4 linked regions of the Homo sapiens genome follow. The protein of the gene in region 4 interacts with the protein of the main gene of each other region in a pairwise test. Each region holds a gene or a part of one and is shown on either strand. Other genes may lie near its edges.

Region 1 (8,088 bases), on a different chromosome or scaffold from region 4:
GTGAGTTAAGATACTTTATTTGAATCTAAATAATCTCTAACTTCGCTTGAAGTACCAATATTCTAATTCTTGGAATATAGCACTCTCATTTTAAATGATTATAAAAATGTATGCTTGTGTCATATTTTCTTTTACAATAATTCTTGGTCAGAGCTATGACATATTGATGCTATTGCTTGGGTAGAAATTCTGCTGTGTGCTTATGAAATGGATAATGAAGAGAGAGCACTCACCTCTAACTCTCAGTATAGAGATTCCTGGCCTTTACTCTGAGTGGTCATCCACTGGCTTTGCAAATGCATGTCTTTCTCTTTCCCAAAACCTACCTCCAGACAGCCTTCTCAAACTGACCACCCAACCTCCAGCTCAATCCTTCCCTCCTCTGCCCCAGCAGCCATGCTGGAGTCCTGCTCTGCATAGCTGTCTGTTTTCTCTGGGTTACTTTGCTTCAGTGCCCTGCACCTGCAGTGGCAGATGGGTCCTAGGAGCTTCCTGAGGACAGGTGCCCAGTCTCTAGGGCCCAGGGTGATCTACACACAGTGGATGCTTGCTTGGTACAAGAAGTGCCCTAGGCTGACTAATCTAGGGACGCAGAACAAACCACTATAACTGAATCAATGCAGTACTTCCTGGAACAGAAGCTAAGCTGAAAACAATGGCTGTAACCTCACAAGAAGCTCCACCCTTCCTTCTGCTCTAAGTGAAAATCTAGGTTGAGGAGGCAAAAACCTGCCTCTTCTCCCTCATTTCAAACCCACATCCCATCAATTCTGTCGTGTGAACATGGTGGGCATAGCCCCACCCAGAGCTGGACCTAGGACCTGCCTGGTGAGCGATCTTGCCCTCCACTTTCTGGTGCCAAGTAGGAGAAAGGGCTTTCCACTTCATGTGGCTCTGTAAACATGGTGTGTTACACTGCAGTCTCACTTGCTTTCTCTCATTTCTAACATGCCTGGAGGTACACACTTCTTTGAATTTGAATATACAGCACCCTTGGTCTAGAATGTCTCCATAGCAAACCCATACTTCTGTGAAAGTGAACCCACCAGTCACCTCTCTAGGCAGTTTTTGGCACACTCCTAACTCCTACAGTTTGTGCACGTTCTCCATCTATTATAGAAAAGAGCACATTGCACTGTATTTGTATATTGCTGTGACTGTCATCCATAATAAACTCTACAACTCCTTTCAGATGATAATCTTTTCTGTTATCCTGTATCTCCAGCACCAAGTGCCATATCTGGCCATGGGGTAGGAGTGGGAAAGGAGAACCAGAGTCCGAGGGCCTCTGTGCAGTCAGAGGTCAATCAGAGGGCACAAAAAACCAAGGACCAACAGACTTTGTCCTTTCCAGTTTGTGCCTCTTGTCAGTGAACAAAGGTGAGGTCACTTAGGTGGTGGTAACCATAGCTGTGAAGGCATGAACTTGGAATCATTCCTCATGAATATAAAGGTACCCAATCCTTTCATTTAAAAATTAAGTGTTCTTAACTGGCCCACACAGGAAACATCACAGGAAATAATGTTTCAGTTCAGTCTTTGCTCCCATTCAACCACAATTTCAAAATAGTACAGATTCTCCTCAAGATTGAGAAAGCAAAACCTCTTTGTTTGTCCAGCAGCTGGGAGTTTGCTTTTTCTCAGCTTTCTTCCAAAGCACACGCATAGTATGATATCTCTTATCTCCCATGGGAGTTCCTTAAGAGTAGGACTGTTTGCTAGACAAATATTCTCCTTCTACCTTTTCATCTCCCTCCCCCACAATTCCCAAAGCACAGTGCCTGGCCTCAGGAGGCACCTACCACTTGATTATTAAGTGAATTTATTTAAAAGACTGCTTTTTATTTTTTAATACAAGGCTCAATAAACTCTGAGGTGTTTTGGGAATCCAGAGCCCTCTCCCCGTCCCCACCCCTCTTGGAAATCTAGAGCCCTCTGCCCTGTTCCCAATCCTCATACTTAGATGGGTGGGTGTAATCAAAGAGAACTTTCTCCTTTCTGCTCCAGGGCATAATCAAGTGAAATTCTCACAGGTCTTGGAAGAAGAAAGCTCTTACATAGAGTTTCCGATGGTGGTCACAGAGAGTCAGGACCGAAGCTCTGCTAACACTTTGCTGAGTCCATGCAACCTCAGTCATTAGTTACAGCACATGATTGGAAATTACTGCAGTATCAAGTTTTGGGGATTGCATTTTATACGTGCATTTCATGTGACATTTATCAGTGGTCATGTTTTGTACACCAAGGATAATTTGGGGAAATGCTGAGGATCCCAATGTGCTTCCTGCTCCTTAAAAGCCAACAATCTATGCATCCTTTAGAGATGTCTAGCTTTCACCTTTTAAAATACAGTTACTGAGCACATCCTGGTGTTTTGATTTTTAGCCACCTTTCTATTTAGTGGCTTTGAAGAACCACAGTGGGAGTCACTAAATTTACTTTTGAAATTTTCTCAAATGAAAAAGAACTGTGTCTTCTAGCTGTCTTTCTAAAGACAGCTCTGGCTGTGGGTTCTTTCCTCACTTTAAAATCACAAGACCAATTTTCTGAAGACCAGAGCACATAGGAAATCTCCCCAATGTCATCTCGCATAGAAAGCTCCAGGCATCAGGAATTACTACACAGAGTAATTCAAGCTCTGAAGCAATTAAGGCATGTGAATGCCTCGACTCAGAGATTTAGATAATGGGAACCTGATTAAGTAAAAGTATTTCTGGCCTGATTGCCTTTGGGGATGTTACTAGGATCTTGCTAATCTGTTTTACTTTGTGCACTAAATATTTGTGAAAGAGAAGTTGCCGGAGATTTTATGGTTACTAGAGAGGTATATGGAGACCCCTAAGAATACGCCCTACCCCACATTAGACAGCAAGCCAAGTTAAAACGTCATCAACCTTACCTTTTCCAGGCACCGTTCCTCAGTCCTTTCGGCAGAATTTAGTGATTATCCTTGAGGTGGCCGAGACAAGGCTGGTAACACAGATATCCGGGGCTATTTGTGTAAAAGGAGAAGTGAAGGGTGAAAAAATATGATCATGCTGTGACGACAGGAAGCCCAGATGAGAAGAAGGAGGAAGTGAGGCTGAGTCCGCCCTCTTTAGTCTCAGAGATTTAGTACTTTCCCAGTGGCTTTTTAGAAGCTTCCTCTCACAGCCCACCCTAAACTAGTTTTGTGAAACAAAAGAAAACTTCAAAACCAAGTTGGTTCAGGCACAGATCTGTGAGCAGTGGTGGATTCTAGGGTAATTTGGCAATGATTTTTGCTTAGAAAAGGACAGTGCTTCTCAATCAAGGTGGCATCTCAGAATTAACTGTGTATTTGTTCAAAAAGAAGTATGCCTGGCCCCACCACCAGTTTCCCATTCAGGTAGACAGACTGGAGGGGAACACAGGAACCAATATTTCTAAACATTTTCTAGGCCCGAGACTTTGGAATGTCTTTCTGAAGATTCTCTGCCCCCTCCTCATACTCCCTCTGTCTGGCTTCAGCCAGTCTCTAGACTTGAATTGGACACCATTTGCAGACTTCTCTGTCTCGAGAGCAAGACTGTCTTAAGGTGAGTCCCCAAGGCATAATCCCAGGGGCACTGGTAGAAATGATTTGGTTAGTACAGGAAACACCACATTTGGAGCCAAAGATCTGAGTTTCAGTTCCAGCTTTATCTCTTTTAGCTGTGAGATCTTGAGCAAGTCTCAATCTGTCAGCCTCAGTTTATTAATGGTAACACCTAATAATAATCCTACTGGTTACTGTTACATCCTTATTTATATACAAGAAAACAGGCGCTCAAAGAGGTTAGAAAATTTGCCCAAGCTCATACAACTAAGACATGTCAGAGGTAGGATTAAAATTCAAGGTCACAGAGAAGGCCTTTTGAGAAACACTGTGATCAATATATTTTGAAAAATGTGTTTCTGGTTTCACTATGCTGCATCACTGGAATTTTCTTAGATTGGGTCAAAGGAGTATGTGACAACCCAAATGTATCACTAGCTAACTATGAAACTTGGAAGCAATCACTGGGCCCCAATGTTTTCATCTTATAAATGAACAGATAGATGCACTCTGCGGTGCTGACTTGCGGGCATGCCTCTGGGAAAGCTAGCTGTCTCCCGCTTCCTTCACCCTGAGACATTCAGATCCAGAGTAATCTCCAGCCAGGGCTGTCTTGTGGGGAAAACTGAATTAAATGAAGGTAAAAAGGTCTTTACTGCAGAACTTGTCAGTCCTTAATATTCTCTAAGCAGGGGAAATAATATATAGATTTCTCCAAACTTATCTGAGCATGGAACTGTGTGGTGTGTGTGTGTGTGTGTGTGTGTGTGTGTGTGTAGTTTCTCTTGGGGAACAATTTTTCAGTGTAACTACACTTTAGGGAATGCTATTAAAAAGTCTCTGCACCTCGGCTGGAATCACTGACCCTCACTCAGAGCTGCTGCCATGCTTACAGGTCCCTGAAGTGGTGGGGCTGAGGAGAGGCTTCTGGCTGAACTCATATTTTCCTAATTATCTCACCCATTCTGATGGCTCTAATTACTATCTGTCTGTTCCAAAGATTCACAAATCTATATAGATGCCATGATCTCTCCTTTGAGCTCCACTCTCTCCCAGGCACCTCAAATCCAATATCCAACTTCAGTTTGATTAACTTGGCATCCCCACACTCAAGCCTGCTCCTCCCACCATGTCCACCATCCAGGAAAGGCCTGACTGGCCTTTCAGCCACGTTCATGAGAAACCAGGTGTCCTCTTAAGCTACTCTCTCTCCCACACCACCACCTATTATCAGCCACCAAGTCCTGTCAGTTATGCTTTTGCCTAAATATTTCTCAAACCAGACCACCTCTCTCCAACCCCATAGAAATTACATTAGTCTTTATCTTTTACCTGTGTTACAGGATCCCAGTGTCCTTCAAGACCACCTTGGATGTTTCTTCAGTCTGTCCTCAGGAAGAAGGGAGGAGAGCCTTCTAAAATGCAAATTTAATCACATGACTCCCCAGCTTAAAACTCTCAGCCGGCTATTTCTTCCCCGGCCCCACCCCCAAGATCTCCTCACACTGGGTAACACTGGATATGGAATTCCTTTTAGTTGCTTAAACAAATCAATCTAGTTCTGTCTCACGAGCTCTCTCTAGAATATCCTCTCACCTGTTCACTTAATTCCTTACTCATCCCCCATCATAGCACCAGAAAGCCCTCCAGGCAGGAACAGTTACTCCTGCTCTCTGCTCCCATTGCCCACAGGCATTCCTCCACCCTCTGTCATTCCTTGTTTTTCATTGTTTTCCCCACTAGACTGAAAGCTCTGTAGGTTCTGTGTTACTCTGTGTATGTTGGGTGATCTTGCTCATGACTGTATTTTTAGTGCCTGGTATTGGGTCTGGCACATAAGAGGTGTTCTATAAATATTTGAATAGTTTCAGGTAATGTGAGGCCTGCAAGTTAGGGGAACCAGAAATTTGGGACAGGCAGAGAGAGTAAGGAGAAGAAAGAGATAGGTAGACTGAACATCTGCAGAGAGAGAAGTGATAAATAAGGGGGAATCTTAGGAATATCGGGAAGACTATCTCAAGACAAATTGTTCACAGCAAAATAGGTGACCATTTTAATGCAGAACATTTTTCCTTGAATGTGCCTCTTTCCATCATTTCACTGGGAAGGGTTGTTCCAAGTGCCGGACAACTAGAGGTGGCTGTTTCCTGGGTTTAGGGGTTTGGTAGAGAACAACGTGCCCACTTATACCCATACCTATAAAATTTTATTGAGAATTAATTCTGTTTCTGACCATCAGATATTTAGAATTCATTTGGAGGGACAAGAACAAAAACAAATAGAGAATAAGACAATATCAGGAAACCCCATGTTATTGAATAACCCAAAAGAACGCTCAAAAACTTTGAAAAAACTAAATTAGAAAAGGCATTTAGCAGAAGCTCAGACTCATGGCTTGGTCTTCTCAATACGGGGTATATTGATCACCATCATAGATGATAATAGAATCTGAGAGTTTAGGAAACTTGAACTTGGCCAGACGAATAGCGGGAATACAAATTATGAGTACTCTACTACTGTGCAGTCGTATTTGCCAAAATACATTCTGAATAGACAAATACTCACATAGACATTTTGTATTTAGCCCCCATTTAGGCCTTTTTCAAAAGCCTTCTAAGTGAGTAGTTCTGTTTTATTATTGGAAGATAATCACTGTTGAAATATGAGAATACAGATAGAACTTCCAAGTTTATTTCAGAGTTATTTAAGTATATAAGGATATTAGAGTTTAAGAGGCATAGATTTTGTGAGAATTATAAGATTGGAAACTTCAAATGGGAGATTAAAGTTAACTAGTAGTACATTGGATTTTGCTTATGGGCTCTAAGAGTAAAGTTTTGAAGAAAATGCTGTAGAACATCATTCTTAACTTTCATTTTAGGTTCAAACGTACATATGCAGGCTTATTATATAGGTAAATTGCATGTGACAGGGTTTTGGTGTACAGATTATTTCATCACCCAGGGGGTAAGTATAGTGACCAACAGGTAGTTTTTTAATCCTCTCCCTCCTTCCCCGCTCCACCCTCAAGTAGGCCCTAGTGTCTGTTTTTCCCTTCTTTGCGTCCATGTGTACTCAGTGTTGAGTTCCCACTTATAAGTGAGAATATGCAATATTTGGTTTTCTCTTCCTGCATTAAATTGCTTAGGATAAGGCCCTCCACCTGCATCCATGTTGCTGCAAAGAACATCATCTCATTCTTTCTTATGACTGCATAGTATTCCATGGTGTATATGTACCACATTTTCTTTATCCAGTCTATCATTGATGGGCATTTAGATTGATTCCGTGTCTTTGTTATTGTAAAGAGTGCTATGATGAACATACACATGCGTGTGTCTTTATGATAGAACAATTTGTATTCCTTTAGATATGTACCCAGTAATGGGATTGCTGGGTCAAAAGGCAGTTCTGTTTTATGTTCTTTGAGAAATTTCCAAACTGTTTTCCACACTGGCTAATCTAATTTACATTCCCACCAACAGCGTATAAGCATTCTCTTTACTCTGAAACCTCGCCAACACCTGTTATTTTTTGGCTTTTTAATAATAGGCATTTTGACTGGTGTGAGATGGTATCTCATTGTGGTTTTGATTTGCATTTTTCTAATAATTAGCGATGCTGAGTATTTTTTCATATGCCTGTTGGCTACATGTGTGACTTCCTTTGACAAATGTCTATTCATGTCCTTTGCTCACTTTTTAATGGAGTTGTTTGGTTTTTGCTTGTTAATTAGTTTAACCTTCTTATAGATTTGGATATTAGACCTTTGTCAGATACATAGTTTGCAGATATTTCCTCCCATGCTCCAGGCTGTCTATTTACTCTGTTGATAGTTTCCCTTTCTGTTCAGAAGCTCTTTGGTTTAATTAGGCCTTATTTATCAATTCTTGTTTTTGTCACAATTGCTTTTGGCATCTTCATCATCAAGTCTTTACCAGGGCCTTTGTCCAGAATGGTATTTCCTAGGTTATTTCCCAGGGTTTTTAAAGTTTTAGGTTTCAGATTTAAAATTTAATCCATCTTGAGTTGATTTTGGTATATGGTATAAGGAAGGGGTCCAGTTTCAATCTTCTGCATATGGATAGCCAGTTAGCCCAGTACCATTTATTGAGTATGGAGTCCTTTCCATATTGCTTGTTTTTGTCAGCTTTGTTGAAGATCAGATGGTTGTAGGTGTGCAGCATTATTTCTGGGCTCTCTATTCTGTTCCATTGGTCTATGCATCTGTTTCTGTATCAGTACCATGCTGTTTTGGTTATGATAGCCTTGTAGTATAGTTCAAAGTCAGGTAACATGATGCTTCCAGCTTTGTTCTTTTTGCTTAGGATTATCTTGGCTATTTGTTTTTAGCTCCATATGAATTTTAAAATAGTTTTTTTCTAGTCCTGTGAAGAATAGTGTTGGTAGTTTGATAGGATTAGCATAGTATCTGCAAATTGCTTTGGGCAGTATGGGCATTTTAACAATATTGACTCTTCCAATTTATGAGCATGGAATGTTTCCCATTTGTTTCTGTCATCTCTAATTTC
Region 2 (7,089 bases), on a different chromosome or scaffold from region 4:
ACTTCAAAAATGTTCACTCCCTATGACCTGGCACTTCCATGCACGCAAATCCTTCTTTAAGAAATCTCCCGGCCAGGTGCAGTGGCTCATGCCTGTAATCCCAGCACTTTGGGAGGCTGAGGCAGGCGGATCACTTGAGGTCAGGAGTTCAAGACCTGGCCAACATGGTGAAATCCCGTCTCTACTAAAAATTCGAAAATTAGCGGAGCGTGGCGGCAGATGCCTGCAGTCCCAGCTACTTGGGAGGTTGAGGCAGGAGAATGGCTTGAGTCAGGGAGGTGGAGGTTGCAGTGAGCTGAGATTGCATCACTCAACTCCAACCTGGGCGACAGAGCAAGACTCTGTCTCCAAGAAAAAAAAAAAAGAAAAAGGAAAAGAAATCTCCCAATGCAGATAAACCCCCAGGCAAATTTCACCCACACTTATCTACAATAGCAAAAATGGAAGCAAATTAAATATCGAGTGATAGACTATTGGTTAAATAAATTGAGACACACTGATAGGATGGAATATGCAGCTGATGAACATTTTATTTATAAAAAGGTCTGTAAAACACAGAGAAGTGCTGGAATAAAGTGATGGAACGATAAGGTGGAAAAGGCAGGATACAAAGTTGTATATACAAGATAATTGCTCTGTAAAAAGAACACCGGCAAATTATGTGAAGAAGAAAAGAGTGGAAGGAAGTACAACAAAACGAAATAATGATAGTCTCTGGTGAGACTATGGGTGACATTTTTTTCTTCCTTTTCTTTTTCTCCTCCATCTTTCCAAGTTTTGCATACTGAACAACTCTTAATTTCACTTTTTAAAGGAAATAGGGCCAGACACAGTGGCTCATGCCTGTAATCCCGGCAATTTGGGAGACTGAAGCAGGAGGCTCATTTGAGGTCAGGAGTTCAAGACCAGCCTGGCCAACATGGTGAAACCCCATCTCTACTAAAAGTACAAAAATTAGCCAGGTGTGGTGGTGCGTGCCTGTAATCCCAGCTACTCGGGAGGCTGAGGCAGAAGAATCACTTGAACCCAGGAGGCGGAGTTTGCAGATCGTGCCACTGCACTCCAGCCTGGGCAGCAGCACGAGATTCTGTCTTAAAAAACAATAATAATGGAAAAAGAAAAAAAATAGTAGTTGTGCTACTTTACCCCCACCCCCGACCCCTTCTCCAGGGGGCTGGACTCGGAGTCACCTTCAGGTATCCGCCCTGTTCCTACTCTCCTCTGTGTTAGACACCTACGTGCACTCTGGTTTTCTACTTTTCTCTCTAGCCACCAGAACCCATAGGCAAGTAACCCTTTCCAGACAAGGAAGGAGCCAAGGTTTTCTTCATCATTTTTCCAAAGGCAAGAAGGCATGGCCAGGGAGGGCAAATGGAAAGGCAACCACTCTCTGCCGGTCCTGGGCTTATCCCTGCAATGTGCACCTGACCTGACCAAGGCCTGGACTTAGGCAGGCCTCAGGGGAGTCCCCAGCTGGATCTTGGTGTCGCAGACAGAGCAGATCTTATTGGGGCAGGTGGGAGACGTCACAGCCCAAATGCAGACTCTAAGCTGGAGGGGTCTGAGCGTTCATCAGGCCCACTGGCCCTCAAACTCAAGTGCGACAGTCACTGGGCATTGTTAGAAATTCAGAGTCCTGCACCAAGCCCCAGAGATGGTTTTGGTGGGTCTTGGTGGGGCCCAGGAATCACGTTTTTCACAGGCTTCCTGAAGGGCTGGGATGCAGGTGGTTCAAAGAGAAGCCAGAATCCCAGTCTCACCCCAGCATGCTCCTCTTCATCACCAGCTGATGCAGGAGACCGTGGGACTAAGTCTGAGGACGCCAGGGAGGGAAGACAAGGTGGGGTCTGGAGTGGGAGGAAGGCAGGGTCCGACACTGGGCATGAGGCCCAGGAGTTCCTGGCAGATTGAAACTCAGACCAGATCCACTGAGCCTTGTCTGGCCCTGCTGAGGGTCAGCAGCCTGGTACTCTGCCCAGGGATGTGAACCTATCAGGGATGTCCCAGTCTCCAGCCGGAAGAGCAAGGCCACCGCTCTGGGCTCCAGGGCTGACAAACGCTTCTAGGTCAGGCTGGAACATGCAAGAGGAGAGCCTGGGGAGGGTGGGGAGAGCCCTGGAGTCCGGGCAGCTGGACTCTGAGGCTGAGGTGGAAAGCTTTCGGGAATCGGTGCTGATCCAGCCAGCCATACTGCTTCACTGCTGGCCTGGCCAGGAGGGCCTCCTGCCCTACGCTGAGACAAACTTCGAGAAGCCCAGCTCCTCCTCAGATGTGTGGAGGGGAGGCATCGAGATCACGTCCCCCTCAGGGGCCTGGGAAGGGGCTTCCTTTTCCTCCGCAGTCTGTAAAGACAACAGTGGGGTTTGGAGAGCAGAACCCAGATGAAGGGGTGGGAGGTGTGAGGGGTGGTCCCCAGGTAGCTGCTGCGTCCACCCAGCCTTTTCCACAAGTTCCAGCCCTCCGTCCATCTGCAGAGGCACAGGACCTAACAACTCCCCAGAACTCCCAGGCTTTGATTCATGGCCTCTCATGACCCCAATCCATCCCTCCCCCGGGGTGCCCTCAAGGCCCCAGGCTGGGTTCTGGCGCAGTTGTGGCCTTGAGGGCAGTGCAGCCCACAGCACTGTCAGCTGTGACTCCCAACAAGCTATTCAGGAATTTTCTGGACCGGAAAAAAAGAGGATGTGAGGTCAAAAGCTCTGGCTTCCCAGGTGAAATGGGCTAGGCCTATGGCTGTGAATGGGGAAGGTGGGTAGATGCGGGGGTGTGGGGTTTGGGGAGCAGATGCTGAGGAAAAGGCCTCCTTCCACTTCCTCTAATTGTCAGAGTGGAGGCAGGCAAGGTGGCTCCTCAGCCCCTCCCTTCCCAGGGCCCTTCTGTCCATACTTGGCTTAGATACTGGATCTCTGTGTAGAGGCTGGGAGAGGGCTCGGGGATGGTGAGAGACCCCATGGGCCCTGCAAGGTTGATCACAGCGTCCTCTGGGTCCCGGCCATTCCCCAGTGGCTGTAACAGAGACTTGGTCAGAACAGCCTGTTCTTGGCAGCAGGGATGGTCTGCTAGCCCAGCCAAGCCCAAGCAAGATGAGGGAAACGTGGGAGGGGTGGGCAAGGCAGGGAGGTGCCGGGAGGGGAGAATACTAAGCTCCTGGATGCCTCTGCCACTTCCTTCCTTCCTGTCTTGTCCAAGGAAGGACAAGCTGTCTCACCTCTCTGAAGCTCAGTTTCCTCAGCTGTAAAACTAGGTAAGAATTTGTCCTTTGGGATTATAATATTCATAATAGCATCCTACCACTCAACCAATGAGAAATTCTGGAATGACTTATTTGTTTTCATTATTTTCTATCCTTTAAAGCAGAAAGATCATGCAGGCTGCAGGTTCTTTGTAACAGGCCAAGAGACAGCAAAGTTGGACACGCCAAAGATTCGTCGAATAACAAGGGACACATGAAACATTCTTGAGATGATGGGTCTGAGCAATCCATTATCCATCAGATGAGGAGACCACGGCCCAGGGAAGACAGCAGGTAGTCCAGGGTCAGTGGGGAAGCCCATATTCTGACCCGGGCCTGGCTGCTCCCATGGGTCCTCAGATCAGGAACGCCAGGCCCGTCCATCTCAGGCCTTGCCCTAGCAGGTGGGCGGAGCAGAGGCTGGAGCCGGCCAAGCTCCCCAGCCAAGACTCCCAAGGCCACAGGCTGCCCTGGGGTTTCCTGGACAGTGAATCCCATGGCCAAATGGGCACTGATGCCAGAGAAAGAAGCTCCCATTTTCTGGGCATGTATAGGGTATATCATCTCACTCTTTCCTATTTACAACTATGTGAGCTATGGCAACAGGGGCTCAGAGAGGTGATGCAACCTGCTTGACATCACACAGCTGGCACATGGCTGAGCTGGGACTCATACTGGAGACTGTCTGACTGCAGACCCAAGCTCTTTCCCTATACCCTGCTGCCATCCGGGCAGGGTGTGTGACACATTCCTCTTGGGCTCGGTGTCCATGGTCTACTAACCGGGGCCCAGCTTCTCTCAATACCTAGCTGCTGTGGATGGGGGCAGAGGCAGATGTTTGAGCCAAATCTTGTTAGAAATGCTAAGATGAAGCCTGGGTGTGGTGGCTCTTGCCTGTAATCCCAACACTTTGGGAGGCTGAGGCTAGAGGACCACTTGAGCCCAGCAATTTGAGACCAACCTGGGCAACATAGTGAGACCCCATTTCTCTAAAACCTTAAATTAAAAAGATAAAATATATACCAAAGAAAAGAAACACAGGGATGACATCTTCAGCCTTCTGGGGACAAGGTAGGAATTAGAGCAGAATTCCTTGGGGGAAGTGTGGGTGGTGGATGAGGGCACTGGGAGGGGTAAGGCAATTCCCAAATGCTGCCACTTAGGGCCCTTGTCCCTCCTAGCCCTGCCCATGGTGAGGACAGAGGGGGCCTTGGTGCAGGGCAGACCTGGGGCTACACCAGAGGACTCCTGACATCAGACCCATGAGTCCATATTTACAGCTTTGCAATCTGGTTTTAACCCAGCCACTGCTGACCCTGGACCACCAGCAGCTGCAGAAGTGTCACCTGTTCCAGGGTGACTGAGTTTGAGGAAAGAGCCTCGCAGTGCAGAGGCCAAACGGCACACCTAGGCAGCAGCCAGGCCCACTATCGCAAGTCTGGTGTGATTTGCAACCTCTCCCCTGCCCCTCTGCCTCCACTGTGGACGATCGGCCCTGTTCCAGCAAGCATGGAGGCATTTTCTGGGTTGCTAAATATGCAAGATATATATCAGAGCTCTGCTTCTAGGTACTAGTAATAAACCTAATAAAGAAAGAGGGAAGTCTTGGGAAGCCAGGGCTGAGTTCTGATCGGAGCTTAGCAGGCTATTCATTTCCAGGAGTGAGGGTCTGCAGCTGTCCCAGGGTCTTTCTCCTGAGTCTGGGGGAGGAGTCTTGGGCTGCGAACTTGGCTCCATTCCTCAAACCCCTTGTACTTCAGTGCAGCGGGGTGGAGGACGCAGAGGGCTCTGCAGCCAGCCCCATAGACCTGTCAGCCTCCCCAGTTCTGCCTCTTTCAGGCTGGGTCACTGGGCAATTTCCCTTTTCTCTCTGAGCCTGTATTTCTTCATCTGCAAAATGAAGGGGATACTAAACTCTACCTCGTATGGGAATGATGAGGATTCGTTGGCATATATAAAGCCCCTGACACGTAGTAGGTGTTCAATAAAAGATGAGGCAGACGAATGGATGGATGGCAGTCCTTCTAGCAAGATCTCTTAGGGAAAGAAAATGCTGGTCTGACCCCTAAGACTTCCCTCAGGGTTTTCACACCCCTGTGAGGCCTCTCAAAGTATAAGTAATGCATCCCCCTCCCTCTTTGACCCGAATGTGGACAAAGAAAGCCCCAAACCCCTTCAATTCCATCTCCAGACTCTGCTAAATCCTATGGAGAAGCCACAAGGGAAATAATCAAGAAAAAGCAGAAGCACCCACCTGATCGTGTTTACAGGGTTCTTGCCTCTGACCCTCTTGGGAGGCCCTGTTCCATCTTTCCCTCAACAAGGGGCCGCCCCCTAGAGCCCCTCTGCCTGCTGGCCCTGTGCCCCTTCCTGTCCCCTCCCTCTTCAGCAGAGCCAGGGTCAGGAGCCTCAGGCAGGAAAAAGCCCAAAGCAGCCCTTCTCAGGGTTGCCAGAAGGCAGTAGCATGGGAGCTGTGGCTGGTTCCGGCGCTCTCAGCCTCCTTGGACCCCAGCCCCTCTTCTGGAGCTAGGTGGGGTGAGACCCAGGCCCTAGCCCGCAGAGCCAGGAGGCCGGGCTTGGAGGTGGCCAGTGGCACCCACCGTCCATCCATCCGTGTGTCTCCATGACTTTTCCCTTACTCTCCTCTGCTACCTTTGGCCCTGTTGAGCTTCCTGAGACAACAACAGCTGCTTCCTAAGCCACAGCCCAAAGTCCCATTTCCACCCCAGACCCTCCTTGGGGTGACCAGGCCTGAGTCTTTTGTCCTCACTGGCGCCAGGAAAGAAGGCAATGGTAGCTCCGCTTTCCTGCCCTTGTGTTTAAAGGAATGGAGTGGAGGCATCTCAGTAAACAGCAGAGGGAGGAGGGGCCAGGAGGGGCTTCTGTTGCCTGAAGTGCGATGCTGCAGCCCCCTCCGTTGGAGTGCTGGCCTCGGAGGGCACAGTCTCTTCTTGCAGCAGTAGCCTTGGGGCAGGTTCCCAGCTCCAGACAATGGGCACAGGGACCCTTATTCTCTTGCCCCTGGTCCCCAGAGCACCACCCTCAGCCTGGGTCCCAGAGCAGCCACACCACCTTGGTCTCAGAGCCAAGGCAGGCTCAGAGAAAACATCAGGGAGTTCTGGAAAGAGAAGAGCAGGAGTCAAGAAATCTGGGTCCTGTTCTCTGTTTGGGCCACCACCTGCTGTGTGACCATGGGCAAGACCTTTACCCTCTCTGGGCCTCAGTCTCATCTTTTGTAAAAGCACACTAGAGTTTGTAGCACTGCCAGAGTCCCTGGACCCCACCCCTGGAGGGTTCAGCTGGGTCTGGGGCCCTGGAGAGTGCATCTCTAACAGCTCCCTGACCCCTGGGCGTTCTGAAAGGCGATTTGCTTCAAACTGAGAGAAAAGTCAGGCTAGAGATCTCAAAGGCTTCATCTGGATCCAGCTCTGATGTTCTGTGATTCTAAAAGGGGGGATGGAAAGAAGGCGCCTGGAGAAGATGCTCACATGGCTCCTGGAGCCCACCCTGCCTGGCACCTGGCGGGAAATCAGGTTCCCACCTGTGAGTCCCCCATGGGCACTGTGTCCGGCTCACACCCTGAAGGGCTGATCTTGGGGCTCACACACATTCCTCCAAGGTGGGGAGCAAGCGCTGCCTCTAGGTCAGGCAAGGAGGACCAGGTAGGAAGTCACAGAGGCAAAGCCCAGGAATCTTGACTTCCAGCCCCAAGGGGATCTGAGCTTGGGCTTCCATATGCCTCTGTCCTTACCAAGCGTGAGAGGCAGAACTTCTCGTTCCTCTGTGTCTCCGTGGCCTGTTGAGCTGAAAGAGATGTAGAAGGAGGAGCCCCTTGAAGCCAGGAGTAGCCGGGAGTG
Region 3 (7,125 bases), on a different chromosome or scaffold from region 4:
AGTCAGGAAGATGGTGCCTTGTGTTGGGGGGCTACAAGGCCCCCAAAACTATGCTTATGTCCTAAAAGGGCTGGCGTGTCAGGCTGAGGAGCTCTGTATTAGGCCATTCTTACATTACTATAAATACCTGAGGCTCAGTAACTTATAAAGAAAAGAGGTTTAATGGGTTCACAGTTCCACAGGCTGTATAGGAAGCATGATGCCGACATCTGCTCGGCTTCTGGGGAGGCCTCAGGAGCATTTTTTTTTTTAATGGAGTCTCTCTCTGTCACCCAGGCTGAGGTGCAGTGGCATGATCTTGGCTCACTGCAACCTCCACCTCCTGGGTTCAAGCAATTCTCTCACCTGAGCCTCCAGAGTAGCTGGGATTACGGGTGGGCAGCATCATGCTCAGCTAATTTTTTTTTTTATTTTTGTAAAGACTGAGTCTCATTATGTTGCCCAGGCTGGTCTCCAACTTCTGGGCTGACATGAACTTCCCACCTTGGCCCTCCTCCCACCTTTTTTTTTTTTTTTTTTGAGACAGAGTCTCGCTCTGTCGCCCAGGCTGGAGCGCAACGGCACGATCTTGGCTCACTGCAACCTCTGCTTCCCGAGTTCAAGTGATTCTCCTGCCTTAGCCTCCTGAGTAGCTGGGATTACAGGTGCTCGCCACCATGCCTGGCTAAAATATTTTTGTATTTTTAGTGGAGATGGGGTTTCACCATGTTGGCCAGGCTGGTCTCAAACTCCTGACCTCAGGTGATCCACCTGCCTCGGCCTCCCAAAGCGCTGGGATTATAAGCGTGAGCCACTGTGCCCAGCACCCCACCCCCCGCCCCTGTTTTTTTGAGACAGAGTTTGGCTGTGTCACCCAGGCTGGAGTGCAGTGTGATCTCAGCTCACTGCAACCTCCGCCTCCGAGGTTCAAGCAATTCTCCCACTTCAGCCTCCCAAGTAGCTGGGACTATAGGTGTGTGCCACCACACCTAGCTGATTTTTGTATTTTTAGTAGAGATGAGGTTTCACCATGTTGCCCTGGCTGGTCTCACACTCCTGACCTCTAGTGATCTGCCCACCTCGGCCTCCCAAAGTGCTGGGATTACAGGTGTGAACCACCGCACCAGCCCCGCCTCAGCCTCTTAACTTGTATTTATTAAACGCTTACTATATGGTATTGCTCTAGGAACTTTTCTAGTATGAACTCACTTAGTTCTCATGATAACCAATAAGCCAGGTACTATTATCATACCCCCATTATACAGAAGGAGAAACTGAGGCACAGAGCATCTCAGAACTCTGCCCAAGCCTACCCAGCTAGTAAGTGGCAGAGCTGCTTCTGGTCTGACAGACATTGCTTTTCACCACCTCGCCTTGCCCCACTGGCTAGCAGTGCCTTCCCCTGTCCTGGGCTACCCTTCCTCACCCCTCCCCTGCACCTGGGTAACCTCAGCCTCTCCTTCATGCGCCCGCTGACCTGTGAACTTGCACTGCTGTAGGAAGCCCTGGAGGAAGGGCGAGTCCGAGAAGAGCATCTGCTGGAGCCGCTCAGCGCCCACATGGAAGACAGAGTTGATGAGGAGGCGGCCGGAGAGGTCGGGAAGCAGGGCAGCCAAGTCCGCTGGAGACAGAGGAGAGCCGAGGATGATGACTGCCTCCACTCCTCCCTCCCTCTGCGGGCCACGCCTCCCCACTCCCAGGCCTTGTAGTGTGCATGGGCGGACCCCACCTCCTGGAGCACAGCTGGACACTGACACAGAGCCCTCCTGTGACTCAGGGATGGGTTGAGGGTGGGCACGTGCTCCAGGCCCAGACAGACAGCCACTGTGCTTGGTTCTGGGTGGAGAACACACCTAGGCCCTGAGATTTAAATCACAGGGATTCATTACCAGATAGCACGCCTCCTGGGAGCATCAACCTAGGGGCACAGCAATTGGTTCAGGGGTGAGTGGGTGGCCCAGGTCTATCCGATCAACCACAGTGATTGGTTCAGGGGCAGGCACACTCTCAAGTTGGCCCAATCAGAGCCAACCCTAGGGTGTCCGCTGTAGACACTAGGAAAAATAGGCTGCTCTCTCTCATTGGGCTGGTCTGGGGCAGGGCTGAGGCCATCTCTGCCCCATAAGAGACAAGAATAGAGGCTAGCTGAAAATTAGTGGAGAGAGAAAATGAATACAATAATGATAATAGAAATACTAATAGTCAATGCTTACTAACTGGCCCAAGTGCTTTAAATGTATGAAATCACTTAATTCTCTCCCTTTGTTCGTTTTAGAGACAGGGTCTCGCTCTGTTGCTCAGGCCGAAGTGCAGTGGTGCAATCATAGCTCACTGCAGCCTCCAACTCCTGGGCTCAAGCGATCCTCCTGCCTCAGCCTCCCCAGTAGCTGAGACTACATAGGGTGCATGACCCCATGCCTGGCTAATTTTTAAATTTTTTGTAAAGACAGGGGTCTCACTATGTTGCCCAGGCTTGTCTCAAACTCTTGGCCTCATGTGATCCTCTTGCCTTGGTCTGCCAAGTAGCTGGTACTATAGGTGTGCACCACCACACCTAGTTTTTTCTTTTTTTTCTTTTTTGTACAAAACGGGGTCTTGCTTTGCTGCCCAGGCTGTTCTCCAACTCTTGGCCTCTAGCAATCCTTCCTACCTTGGCCTCCCAAAGTGCTGGGATTACAGGTGTGAGCCATCACACCCAGCCTCATTTATAGTCTCTTAACAACAATCCTATGAAGTGGGTATTATCATTGTTAACCCCATTTTCAGAGGAGGAAAGCAAGCTCAGAGAAGTTACATAATTTGCCCACGTGACATGGTCAGGAAGTGGTGTGACCAGGATGTGAACCGCGGCAAGCTGCCTTCAGTCTGTGCTTGTGTTCACCCTGCCATGCTGCCTTCAAAACAGAGTAAAGACAGAGATTTCTAGCAACAGCGCCTGAACGCCATCCCGCCTGCCCCTGGATTCTCAGTGCTGCGGGCGAATCCATCCCCTCTTGCTTAAGACTGAGCGAGGCTTGCAAGTACCGGAGGCGAATGAATTGGGCCCGCCTGCCTCACCTTCCTCCCCAGTGGATGAAGAGGAGTTACTTGTGTCTGTCAATAGCTCCTCACTGGGCAGCAGATCCAAGGGGCCCAGGGTGGTGGGCCCGTCAGGCTGGGTGGGCTCTGTGCTCGGGGGTTCAGCCACCGGGGTCACTGTCTGGCTGGAGGAGGCGTCTGGCTGGCTGTCTACCTGCTCCTCCTTGTCCTCCTCTGCCTGTGGAGAAAGGCCCGATGCAGCCTTGGCCACCTCCATCCCAGCCCCAGGGCTCCCAAGTCCACACTGGCCACAAGGATTCCAGAGCCTGTGCAGACCCGGGGTGGTGTGTGCACCGAGGGCTCACGGCTGAGCTGCGAGCAGCCTGGGGCCACCCAGATGAGGGCCCCTCTCAGCCCCTGCCAGGCTTGTCTCAGATGCCTGAGCCATAAGCTTTCTTACCTGTCCTGTCCGTCTGTCTGTCTGCTGCTTCATCTATCCACCCATCTCCCATCCCTTCTGTCTCTCATCCTTTCTGTCTGTCCCCTCTCTTCCCTGTCTCTCTTTCCCTGTCACATGTCCGTCTTCCCCTCCCTGTCCTGTTCCTCCATCCAGGCCTCCCCTGTCCCCCTATCCATTCCCCTCCAAATCTGTCAGGCTGTTCTTCTCCCACTGCACCCCCAGCCCTCCTCTCTCTTCCTATCAGTATCCCACCCCTCTTCCAACCCACCGCTCACCCCATGGTCTGCGTCGCTGCTGGCTCGGGAAAGGTTGGGCGTGACATGGCCACGGCGCGAACCCACTGGGCTTGGCTCCTGGCTGCGGTCAGCTGCCCCCGAGGAGGTGATGTCGCTCAGGGCGATCACATCTCCCACTTCCTTGGGGGTCCTGTGGGAAAGGGGAGGAAGCGGGACTGCTGTGTCCTTGAGACCCCATACACCCTCCTGAATCCTCCAGACGTCATACAACCATCTCAGGCCCCCCAGCACTCCAGGAACTCTGCACGCCGACCGTCCTGTTCTCCCCCGAACCCTTCAACCTCCTTTGACCTCCAACTCACCCCAGACCGTTCAGCTGCAAGGGGGAGACATAGTCCTCATCCTCACTGGTGAGGCCCAGCTCTGAGCCGTAGCACTGATGCACCAGGTGCCAGAGCTCGCGGGGACTCAGCGTCTGGGGAGGCGGGACCTGGGGTTGGCCTCCATCTCACCCCAGCCAGAGCCCGGCCCGCCAGATTCCCCACCAGCCCTCGGCCTCCGCAGTTCCCCTGGCTTCCACAAGGAGGCAGCCACGATCTCCCGCACCAGACCTGGCCTCAGCAAGCGGGGAATCCCCTGCTACAGCCCCTCCAGGGCCTGCGCCCAGGACTCAAACTTCCTGCTTCCCAAGTCCCCACAATACTCTGGCCAGAGAATGTTCCCATTTTTTTTATATCTTTTTTTGTTTGTTTTTTGGAGATGGAGTCTGGCTCTGTCGCTCAGGCTGGAGTGCAGTGGTGTGATCTCAGCTCACTGCAACCTCTCCCTCCTGGGTTCAAGCGATTCTCCTACCTCAGCTTCCCAAGGAGCTGGGATTACAGGTGCGTGCTACCACGCCCAGCTAATTTTTGCAATTTTAGTAGAGACGGGGTTTCACCATGTTGGCCAGGCTGGTCTCGAACTCCTGACCTCGTGGGCACCACGATCCGCCCGTCTTCGTCTACCAAAGTGCTGGGATTACAGGCATGAGCCACCGTGCCCAGCCATGAATGTTCCCATCTTTACAGAGCATACGGAGTCCCAGGAAGGGGAAGTCATGTAGGGAAAGTCATGTGTTCAAGGTCACCAAGTGACTTGGTCAAGCCCTGCCAGACTCCAGGGCTGAGTCTCCCATGCCTATGCCATCGTGGCCCCCCGAATCTTTTCCCAGGTGTCCTCGGGAGCCTTGAGCTTTCAGCCACCCATGGCCAGAGTGGCTGAATGACAGTGATGACAGTTAACAGTAAGTGATGATAGCAGCAGACATTTGCCACCTGGTCAACTAGGTGCATTCTTCTAACCACTTTACAGATGTACTAACTCACTGTATCTTCAAAACCATCTGGAAAGTAGGTGCTAACCTCATCATCCTTTTAAGACAATGGTGCTGAGAAGTGCAAGGTGACATGCTGGGGTCCAGCCAGGAAGTAGCAGTGCTGAGATGTGACCCCAGGGGAGCTGGTCTACAGCCGGGGGGCAGAGGGGGTGGCGAGGGAGCTAACCGCTGGGCTACTCTGCTCATAAGAGCTGACATGACTGAGTACTTATTCTGGGCAAAATTCTGGGTGCTGTGAAGTGGGGATGGCCCCCATTTGACAGATGGGGTTCAATCACTTGCCCCAGGGGATGGGGCTGGAATCCCGGGGCTCTGCCCTGTCCTCCTTAGGGCCTGACTGTGCGCTGTCCCTCTCTCAGGATGCTGAATGGGACCCTCAGCACTCCTGCCTGCTCCAGGGACATCGGAGCCTCTGAGAAGGCAGCGCGTGAGTGCCGCTCAGCCGGAGGATGGGGCTGGGGCTCTCTGAGGTGCTGTGGACCAGCCATAGCCGGCATCCTGTGATGACCTCCCAGCCTCTATCCACACTCCCCCGCTGCCAGTGGAACCTGGATGTCCTTCAGGGTGAAAATCATTCCCAGCCCCAGGGAAGAATTACGACGGTTTACACCAATTCATGTCCCTTTGCCAGAGACTCAGCTTCGGGGTCAGGTGGGGCCCAGGGAGGAGCTGCAGGGGCACTGGGCCTGGTGCCCATGGAGAAGAGCCAGGGCTGCCTCCAGCTCCGCAAGTTCTGGGGTCCCTGGCTCCATGGTCCCCCTGGAAACCCCCCATCCCCACCCGGGCCTCACCCAGGCCCACCTTTTCAAGCAGTGCATTCTGCCAGAGGCGGAAGATGAGGAGGAAGCAGCGGTCACGGGCCCCAAAGGAAGTGAAGAAATGCTGTCAGGGAGAGAGAGAGAGAGAGGTGTGAGCAGGTTGGGGAGCGACCAGGACAGAGGTGGGGAAGCGCCACCCTCATCTGCGCTGACGCCACATCTTTGGCCCCATGAATCCACTAATTCACCCCTGCATTAGTTCCACAAAACGTCTGTCCTGCGCCCGGCCCTGCCCTGGACAATTCCAGAATCACTGGGATGGGGAGACGACCCCTGGCCCTGTCCTTGGAGCTCCCAGTCCAAGGAGGGGACAGATGCATCTCTAGACAGGGTCAGCCCAGAGGGGCTGGGATGTGATGGGGGGAGCCCAGGGAACTTGCCCAGCCTCCTTTGCCACTAAGAATGGTCAGTTGATCCTTTTTTTTTTTTTTTTTTTGAGACAGGGTCTGGCTTTGTCACCCAGGCTGGAGTGCAGTGGCATGATCACGGCTCACTGCAGCCTCAACCTCCTGGGCTCAAGCCATCCTCCTGTCTCAGCCTCCTGAGTGAGTAGCTGGGACTACAGGTGCGTGCCACCACACCTGGTTAATTTTTTGCTTTTTAAGAGACAGGGTCTCACTATGTTGCCCAGGCTAGCCTCAACCTCCTGGGCTCAAGCAATCTTCCTGCCTCAGCCTCCCCAAAATGCTAGGGTTACAGGCATGAGCCACTACACCTGGCCAGATCCACTTTTAACCAACAAAACACAAAGAGAAGTCTGCTGGGAAGTGTCCCCCACACCTGTCCCCCTTCTTGTTGGACCGCTGGTGAGAAAGCCATCTTGCAACCAACGGACATGAGGCCACAATGACAGGGACAGGACACAACATCGGGGAGACTTACGAAGGGAGGGGCGGCTGAGGTGCCACATACATGGAAGAGTTTTACTATTTCTGCTGTTCCTGAGCAGCTGTGTGAGGTAACAGGTTGCAGGGAAAGAGAGGAGAGGCTGGTGCGGGGATCAGGTCAGGGGTGATGGGCGCCTGGGCCGGGAGAACAGAGAGAAGGGGACAGCTCGGAGAGAACTCAGGGTGCAGAACAAATGGGGCTTTGCATGTTTGGGGGAGGCGGCCTGCTGAGCGGGGGACCGCGTGGTCCCGTCACCGGGTCCTCCGTCACCTTCTCGCTCTCCGTGCAGATCTGGATGGCGTTGGGGATCAGCTTGGCCGTCTTTTCCTTCTTCAGACATGTCACTTCCTT
Region 4 (7,125 bases):
GCACCGTGCCTCCAGGGTGCCAATAATGTTTTCAAAATAATTGCCTCTTTGCACTGCCACCTGGAGGCTGGGAGCCACCTGGAGTCTCCTTGATGAAAGGAAATGCTTGAACCCTCACATACTCCCTTGCTCTGGACAAATATTTGGCCAGCGGGGTCCTGAGGCCAGGCTGGAACAGATTGCTCTGTGCCCAGGAGTGCCTTAACTCCCTGGTGTGGGTGCCCTTCTTACTCTGTTTGCTCTCTGTACATTTAGTAGGTGGAGCAGGGCAGGAACCAGATTTGACTCATGGTTTACAACAAATCTCAGCTTTGCACACAGCGGGGCTGGAGGCTCACCCTCCCTGGAGCCCCACCTTCTGCTACTCCTTGACCCAAGCCCGGCTGCCCAGCCTTCAGCCTCCAAAGCCCTCACAGCTGCTTCAGCATCCTCTGAGCTTGGCATGTGCCCTTTCTGCCCTCTGGAGAGCCCCTCCCAGTCCTTTGGCCTGGTTAACCAGTTAGGTCCACCTCTCTCTCCAAGGCTCGACTGACCCTATGCACCTGTCCAGGCTGCTCTGCCCACTCGGGGCTGGTTGTCCACCTGCATGTTAAGTGGCTGCTTATGCATCTGTTTCCACTGAGCTGTCAGCCTCCTGCATGAACGACAACTTATTCCCAGGTATTGGTAGTGCTGGGCTCAGTGCCAGAAGCTTCATACTCACATCTGTAGTTTTAGCCAGTTCACACCAGCCCCCAGTGTGGGGAGACTGCTGTGAGTTGCCATTTGCAGAGAGGAAGCTGGGGCCAAGAGGCAGAATCACTTGCTGCAGCGTCCCACAGTGACTTCGGAGGACAGCTCCTCTGAGAACGGGAGTCCCCTGCCAAGGGGAGGGAGCTGGCAGGGCGCCTCTGCATTAGAATTCTCCCAGAGAAGACCGCGGCAAAGGCCTGTGCTCCAAAGGCAAGGGGCATGACTCAGCTGAGGCAACAGCTGTTTCTGTTCCACAGACACCTAGCCGGGAATGAAATCTCTCCTGACTCGGCTGTGCCTTTCCCGTATCCTCCTCTTCTTCTCAGGATTGCTCTTCACCCTCCTCCGCCCTGTCCCCCAGATGGCCCCTGTGACCCTGGGCTCTGCAGTCCTCCCTGGGCATCTCCTGGGCAGTGCTGAGCGGAAGGTCGACCGCCCCACTGCCCATCCCCTGGGAGCAAACCCCTGGCTTTCATGATGTCATCTGTGCTGAGACATCTGTGACTACCTTCACCTTCATATGTTTCTGGGACAGGCAAGGACTGGTGTAAGAGCGTCCCTAGGAACGTGGTTCCTCAGAGGCTTCTGGGTTGGAGGCTCCAGGGACATGAGACACACTCACCCAGGGCCCCCTGAATGGTGGGGTCCAAAAGGGGCACTGTGCAGCTGCAACGGTAGAGATATTCTGTGTAAGTCCCCTTGAGAGAGAATTTCTCACCTGAAGACATTATACTAAATGAAAGAAGTGAGCCACAAAAGTCCATATGTTGAATGATTCCATTCATATGAAAGTTCAAAATATGGAAGTTTGTAGAGATAGAAAGTAGATTAGTGGTTGCTTGGAATGGGGGCAGGGAAGCCACAGCTCATGGGATTTCTTTCCAAGGTGATGACAATGTTCCAAGATTGACTGTGGTGATGGACGCACGTATCTGCGAATATTCTGAAAACCAGGGAATCATACCCTTTCAATGGGGGAACTGCATGGGCTGTGAATTATAGCTCATAAAGCTGTTTAAGAAAAGAAAAAGATAATGTCTCCCCACCATCTCACTATGAAACATACTGCTATAAATATACCATGCAAAGGAAAAAAGTCGGCCTCATTTTTTAAAGGACTCACTTGCAAGGTGATGCCCCCAGAGGCTGGGTGGGGTCCTGAGATCTGTCAGGAGCTGGGGTTAAACCCATAGTGGGCTTTGTTCTATGGACAACTGTGGACAAGGTTCCCACTATAGACTGCAGGAACCTGCGAGCCAGTGTGGGGAGCATGGAATTTCCCAGGGAGCTGGAAAATAGTCTTCATCAGGTTGGTAAAAGCACACACTGGAACAGGGCAGAGTCTGGCCTGACCTCAAGGCCCTCCGCGCAGCTGCCGGAAGCTCAGAGCCCAGGCTGTGGCTGCAGCCAGCAAGGTGCACACAGGAGGCTGTGACCAGCTCTCCACACACTGACTTCCCCTCACTTTTCCTGCCATTGATTCCTCACACCAGTCACATCTTAAGCCACGTGGGAAGAATGGAGTGGAGTGAGATGACTCTGCAGACAGGAGCTGAGGACTACCTTCTCAGATTTGCCATTTCCAGCTGCCATCTGTGCATTAATTTACCTCATATGTATTTTACAGTTAATTTTTCCCAAAATAATGACATTGCAACCATAAGCATAGAAACAATGTCACTATCCGGTTTACCTTTGCCTATCCACGCTATTAGAGAACTCCAGACACCTGGCTCCACCCTGAGCCCTTCTTGCCTTCATCAGAAAAACCAAAGAGAGTAAAGGAGGAGGAAAATCGTTTCCTCACTGTGAAATTCAGTGTTCCTCGATAGCATGTGTATAGGTCACCCGTAAGCGCCTCTGGCCCACGGGGTCCCACTGGGATTCCATAACGGAGTCTCTTCCCAACCATGTGCAACCCAAGCTGCTCCTTTGGGGTTTGGTTCATAAGTGGCTCTAGTTCAGCCACACCCAGGTACCAGGAGACCAAGGCCCGTTAGCTGACTTGGACACCGATGCATGGCTGGATGGGTCTTCTCCTGGTCCCCACCAGTGAGGCAGCTGTGAGCAAGGCAGACCTCAAGCCCACCATCACCTGGTCAGGGAAAGCGCCATGTTATCCCTAACCCAATATACCTGTGTTTGTGCTGAGTGCTACAGAGAAGACGTGCAGGACTCCCTGAGACTGTGTGAACGAGGAAGCAACTTAAATTGGTCCTCCTGGGAGGGTCACGTAGCCACCAGGCAAAAGGCACTTAGGAGAGGGGTTCCCAGGCCAGGGCCTCCCTCTTCCCACTGGATGTGCCCGCTGGATCCTCCTCCTATTTCTCCATGCCACCCTCGCATGCCTCCTGAATCCAAGCCCTGCCTGTACCAATGTGCTCCTGTCCCTCCGTCAGTGCCCGTTATGGAAAAGGCCACATAATCTGTTGAATCTTAAACTCAACTGTGGATGAAATCTACACACACATCTTATTCCATGGTGGTCTGGGCATTTTTATTTAATTGATTTTGCTCCCATTTTTGTAAGATGCACAGTGCATCCCACCGGCCCTGCCACGTGCCTTCAGGCAACCTAAGATCCATCAGCAGAGGACGCTTTCTGGTCAGAGATGCCCACATCTGATTCCTTAGGGACAACTTGGTTTTAATAAATCCAAAGTCTTCATTGCACTGATTTTTCTACCCAAATGCAATTCTCTCCTGATTGCTTCTCAGTCAAGCAGCTCAGAGAACACCTGTGAAGACAGCGGTATCTCTCACCCAGCAGGTGGGCAGCAGGTGCAGGGAGGTGGGGGGGTCAAGGTGCTATGTGAATTCAAACCACAGGGGACATAGGCCTGGGAGGGCAGCCCCATCCTCAGCCCCCCAGACACTTCTGTAGTACCTTGGAGACTTTTGGCTGCAAAGGAATCTCCACATAGGCCTGGAGTGCTTCGAGCCCAGTCCTCATCCAAGTGGGGAACATGTGGATGAGGCTGAGCTGATTCTTACTGGGTGGGGGTGGCGCTGGGGGAGATGAGGAGAAGGGAAAGAGAAGTGCAGAAAGTCCCCGCTGGGGTTTGTACACGCCTGTCCACAGTGAGGAACGGAGTTTGTACGTACCCATCCGCGGTGGGGAGCGGGTTTGTATGTGTCCATCCACGGCGAGGAGCGGGGCTGGGCTACTGAGGGGTGCTACTGGCCCCCATGTCTGCTCCTCTTTGACTGTATGGGGCTCACTGACCCTGGCGACATCAACTGGGGTGTATTCTGGATAACCACGGGACTGTACTTTCCTCATGCCCATCCTCAGCCATCCAAAGAGACAAGGCTGTCCTTGGTTACTCCATTCCAACTCCAAATCTGATCATCAGAACACTTCCTGGACTTGGGAATATAAACAGTTGAATCCAGAAAAAGAAATAATGAGCAAGAGAAAGAAAGAGAGAGAAAGAGAAAGGGAGAGAGAGAGAGAAAGAGAAAGGGAGAGAGAGAGAGAAAAGAAAGAGAGAGAGAGAAAGAGAGAGAAAGAAAGAGAGAAAGAGAAAGAAAGAAAGAGAAAAAAGAAAGAAAGAAAGAAGAAAGAAAGAAAGAAAAAGAAGGAAGGAAGGAGAGGGAGGGAGGGAAGAAGAAATGAAGGAAAGAGAGAGAGAGAAAGAAAGGAAGGGCAGGGCAGGGGACTACTGACAGTGTGGTTAATTTGTTTTGCCAAATAAAGACCAAAAAGATCTGCTGGTCACTACCATTGCATAAAGGAAAGGACATTTTAATATCAAAGCAAGTAGGAGGGCTAGAATATCAGAAGAAATAGCAGCTCTTCTCATGACAATACCAAATGGCATAAATCCTTTCTCAGAATGATGAATTACTTAACTTCCACCTACCTCAGTTTCCTCATCTGGCAAACAGGTCAGCATTGCTCAGAGGGTTACTGTGAGAATCACTGAGTTATTATTTGTAAAGTGCTTAGGATAGTGCCTGGAATGTAGGTCTGATATAAGTGTTTGTTAAATAAAAAAATTAAACCCATATTTAAAAAGTTACTCAGGCCAGGTGCAGTGGCTCACGCCTGTAATCCCAACCCTTTGGGAGGCTGAGGAGGGCAGATCACCTGAGGTCAGGAGTTCAAGACCAGCCTGGCCAACATGGTGAAACCCCGTCTCTACCAAAAATAGAAAAATTAGCTGGGCATGGTGGCATGCACCTGTAATCCCAGCTACTCAGGAAGCTGAGGCATGAGAATCACTTGAACCCAGGAGGCAGAGGTTGCAGTGAGCCACACGCCACTGTACTCACGCCTGGGTGACAGAGCAAGACTCTGTCTCAAGAAAAAAAAGTTTTAAAAAGTTAATCAGGGCAAGCGTGCCGGGGATTGGGATTGAGATCCAGCACAGGGCCCTGGGGGGACTAAAGATGCATTTTTGCAGAGGAAAATGCCTGCCCTGTTCTCTTTGCCTGCTTCCTGTGTTTTTGCACTCCAGTCACCCCATGTGACCGCTGGTCGGGGGCCCTTCCTGGGCTGGGGCTCTCCTCTAGGCCAAAACTCACCCCTCCTCCTCCCCCGCAGATCTTCGGGGGCCTGGTGTGGATCCTGGTGGCCTCCTCCCTGGTGCCCTGGCCCCTGGTCCAGGGCTGGGTGATGTTCGTGTCTGTGTTCTGCTTCGTGGCCACCACCACCTTGATCATCCTGTACATAATTGGAGCCCACGGTGGAGAGACTTCCTGGGTCACCTTGGTGAGTCCAGCCCAGGGTGGCTGCTGGTTGTAGGGGGGCGCAGGAAGTACTGGTCCCTGGCCCAGTAGGATGGGCTTTTCCAGTGCCAGGTGAGACTTCTCCGTAGATGTCACCCCACCATGTTCCAAGGCTGAGCCTGCCCAGGGCTCCTGGCAGCAGAATCAGGAGAGGCAGGGGCAGAGGCAAGGTCGCCGCTGCCAACCCTCACTGGACCTGTTCTGTGTTCTCCTGCATGACTGCCTTTCCATGGATAACCAGCTGCCCAGCCCCCACACCACCTGTACCCGCCAGGTGCCTGCCTGCCCCTCCCATCACCTGCAAGGGCTGTTTTCACCTCAAGGCAGCAGGGCCCCAGAGGCCGACCAAGGTGTTGGGCTCCAGAAATTGGCCCTGGCTCTGAGGGTCAGGCCATGCTTACTGTCCAGCTCCTCAGCCACTGCCTTCCAAGCAGGGCTGCCAGAGAGCACTGGGAAACAGAAGCGGCCTTTGGTCATTATTCTGTATAAATTCTGCTTTGAGACCCATGAAAAGGTAACTTTTACATGTAGGACACTTGCCTGTTACCTGCTGTAGGGGTGGTGGGGCCATTTGGCCAAGGCTGTCACTCTCAAAAGCTCTGCTACTTAGACTTTTGAAATCACTTCCAAATCACAACTACACAAAACCCTGTTTTAGTACCTTTTTGCTTTCATTTATTACTTTATTTTGAGTTGGGGGTCTCATTCTGTCACCCAGGCTGGAGTGCAGTGGCGCAATCTCATCTCACTGCAGCCTCAACCTCCCAGGCTCAAGTGATCGTCCTGCCACAGCCTCCTGAGTAGCTGGGACTACAGGCATGTGCCACCACACCCAGCTAAGATGTATTGTTTTGTGTAGAAATGGGGATCTAACTATGTTTCCCAGGCTGGTCTCAAGTCCTGGCCTCAAGAGATCCTCCTGCACCAATCTCCCAAAGCTCTAGGATTACAGTCATGAGCCACCACGCCCAGCCCTTTTTTGCTTTTAAATATACCAGGGGCCAAAAATAAGCAATGAAACAAAACAAAACAAAACAAAACAAAACGAAAGAAACAGCATGGTCCTCCCTCACCCTGCACTGGTCAGCGAGGCCACACCCAACCTGGACTGTGGCCATGCACGACACTTCTCAGATCCAGGACCAGCTTTTCCCTGGGACACCCCAAGCTGCTGGCCCTTCCTCCACCTCTCCCTTGACCCTTCCTCAGGGGAGACCAGTGTCCCATCCCCAGCAAAGTGCTCACTCTGGCCCCACAGCAGTGAAGTGAGACTCAGCACAGCAGGGCAGGCATGGGACCTCCGTGACAAGGTTGGGAGGGGTGGGATTCAAAGGAAGTGGGGGGAGAGGCAAGGGGCGGGGGTGGAGGGGACCTCAGCTCTGCATCTGGGCCCCGTCTCTCTCTCCCCATCCCTCTGACACCCCGTCTGCCCCATAGGACGCAGCCTACCACTGCACCGCTGCCCTCTTTTACCTCAGCGCCTCAGTCCTGGAGGCCCTGGCCACCATCACGATGCAAGACGGCTTCACCTACAGGCACTACCATGAAAACATTGCTGCCGTGGTGAGTCCGGGCACCTGGGGCTGTGTCCACAGCGGGCGGCTCCGTGGCTGGCAGGGTGTGTGTGGAGGCTGCCTAGGCCCTTGGTCTGTTTTCAGT

The links.
Region 1: the proteins of MAL (region 4) and CD53 interact in binary tests that used the Homo sapiens proteins (3 or more experiments, as listed by UniProt).
Region 2: the proteins of MAL (region 4) and CD300LG interact in binary tests that used the Homo sapiens proteins (3 or more experiments, as listed by UniProt).
Region 3: the proteins of MAL (region 4) and GRAMD1A interact in binary tests that used the Homo sapiens proteins (3 or more experiments, as listed by UniProt).

The regions. Positions count from the first base shown.
Region 1 is NC_000001.11:110,868,060-110,876,147, reverse strand, and holds the start of CD53 (leukocyte surface antigen CD53), read right to left. Parts: upstream 3,001-8,088; 5' UTR 2,900-3,000; intron 1,192-2,899; exon of another isoform or gene 1-1,191. UniProt on the Homo sapiens protein: Structural component of specialized membrane microdomains known as tetraspanin-enriched microdomains (TERMs), which act as platforms for receptor clustering and signaling.
Region 2 is NC_000017.11:43,857,051-43,864,139, reverse strand, and holds the end of CD300LG (CMRF35-like molecule 9 isoform 1 precursor), read right to left. Parts: intron 7,037-7,089; coding exon 6,984-7,036; intron 6,677-6,983; coding exon of another isoform or gene 6,605-6,676; exon of another isoform or gene 6,380-6,604; intron 6,351-6,379; coding exon of another isoform or gene 6,312-6,350; exon of another isoform or gene 5,906-6,311; intron 3,007-5,905; coding exon of another isoform or gene 2,887-3,006; intron 2,343-2,886; coding exon 2,229-2,342; 3' UTR 501-2,228; downstream 1-500. UniProt on the Homo sapiens protein: Receptor which may mediate L-selectin-dependent lymphocyte rollings. Binds SELL in a calcium dependent manner. Binds lymphocyte.
Region 3 is NC_000019.10:35,010,299-35,017,423, reverse strand, and holds part of GRAMD1A (protein Aster-A), read right to left. Parts: coding exon 7,045-7,125; intron 5,951-7,044; coding exon 5,870-5,950; intron 4,169-5,869; coding exon 4,056-4,168; intron 3,884-4,055; coding exon 3,733-3,883; intron 3,236-3,732; coding exon 3,037-3,235; intron 1,601-3,036; coding exon 1,457-1,600; intron 1-1,456. UniProt on the Homo sapiens protein: Cholesterol transporter that mediates non-vesicular transport of cholesterol from the plasma membrane (PM) to the endoplasmic reticulum (ER).
Region 4 is NC_000002.12:95,042,678-95,049,802, forward strand, and holds part of MAL (myelin and lymphocyte protein), read left to right. Parts: intron 1-3,207; exon of another isoform or gene 3,208-3,470; intron 3,471-3,837; exon of another isoform or gene 3,838-4,101; intron 4,102-4,598; exon of another isoform or gene 4,599-5,281; coding exon 5,282-5,449; intron 5,450-6,903; coding exon 6,904-7,029; intron 7,030-7,125. UniProt on the Homo sapiens protein: May be involved in vesicular trafficking from the Golgi apparatus to the cell membrane. Plays a role in the maintenance of the myelin sheath, and in axon-glia and glia-glia interactions.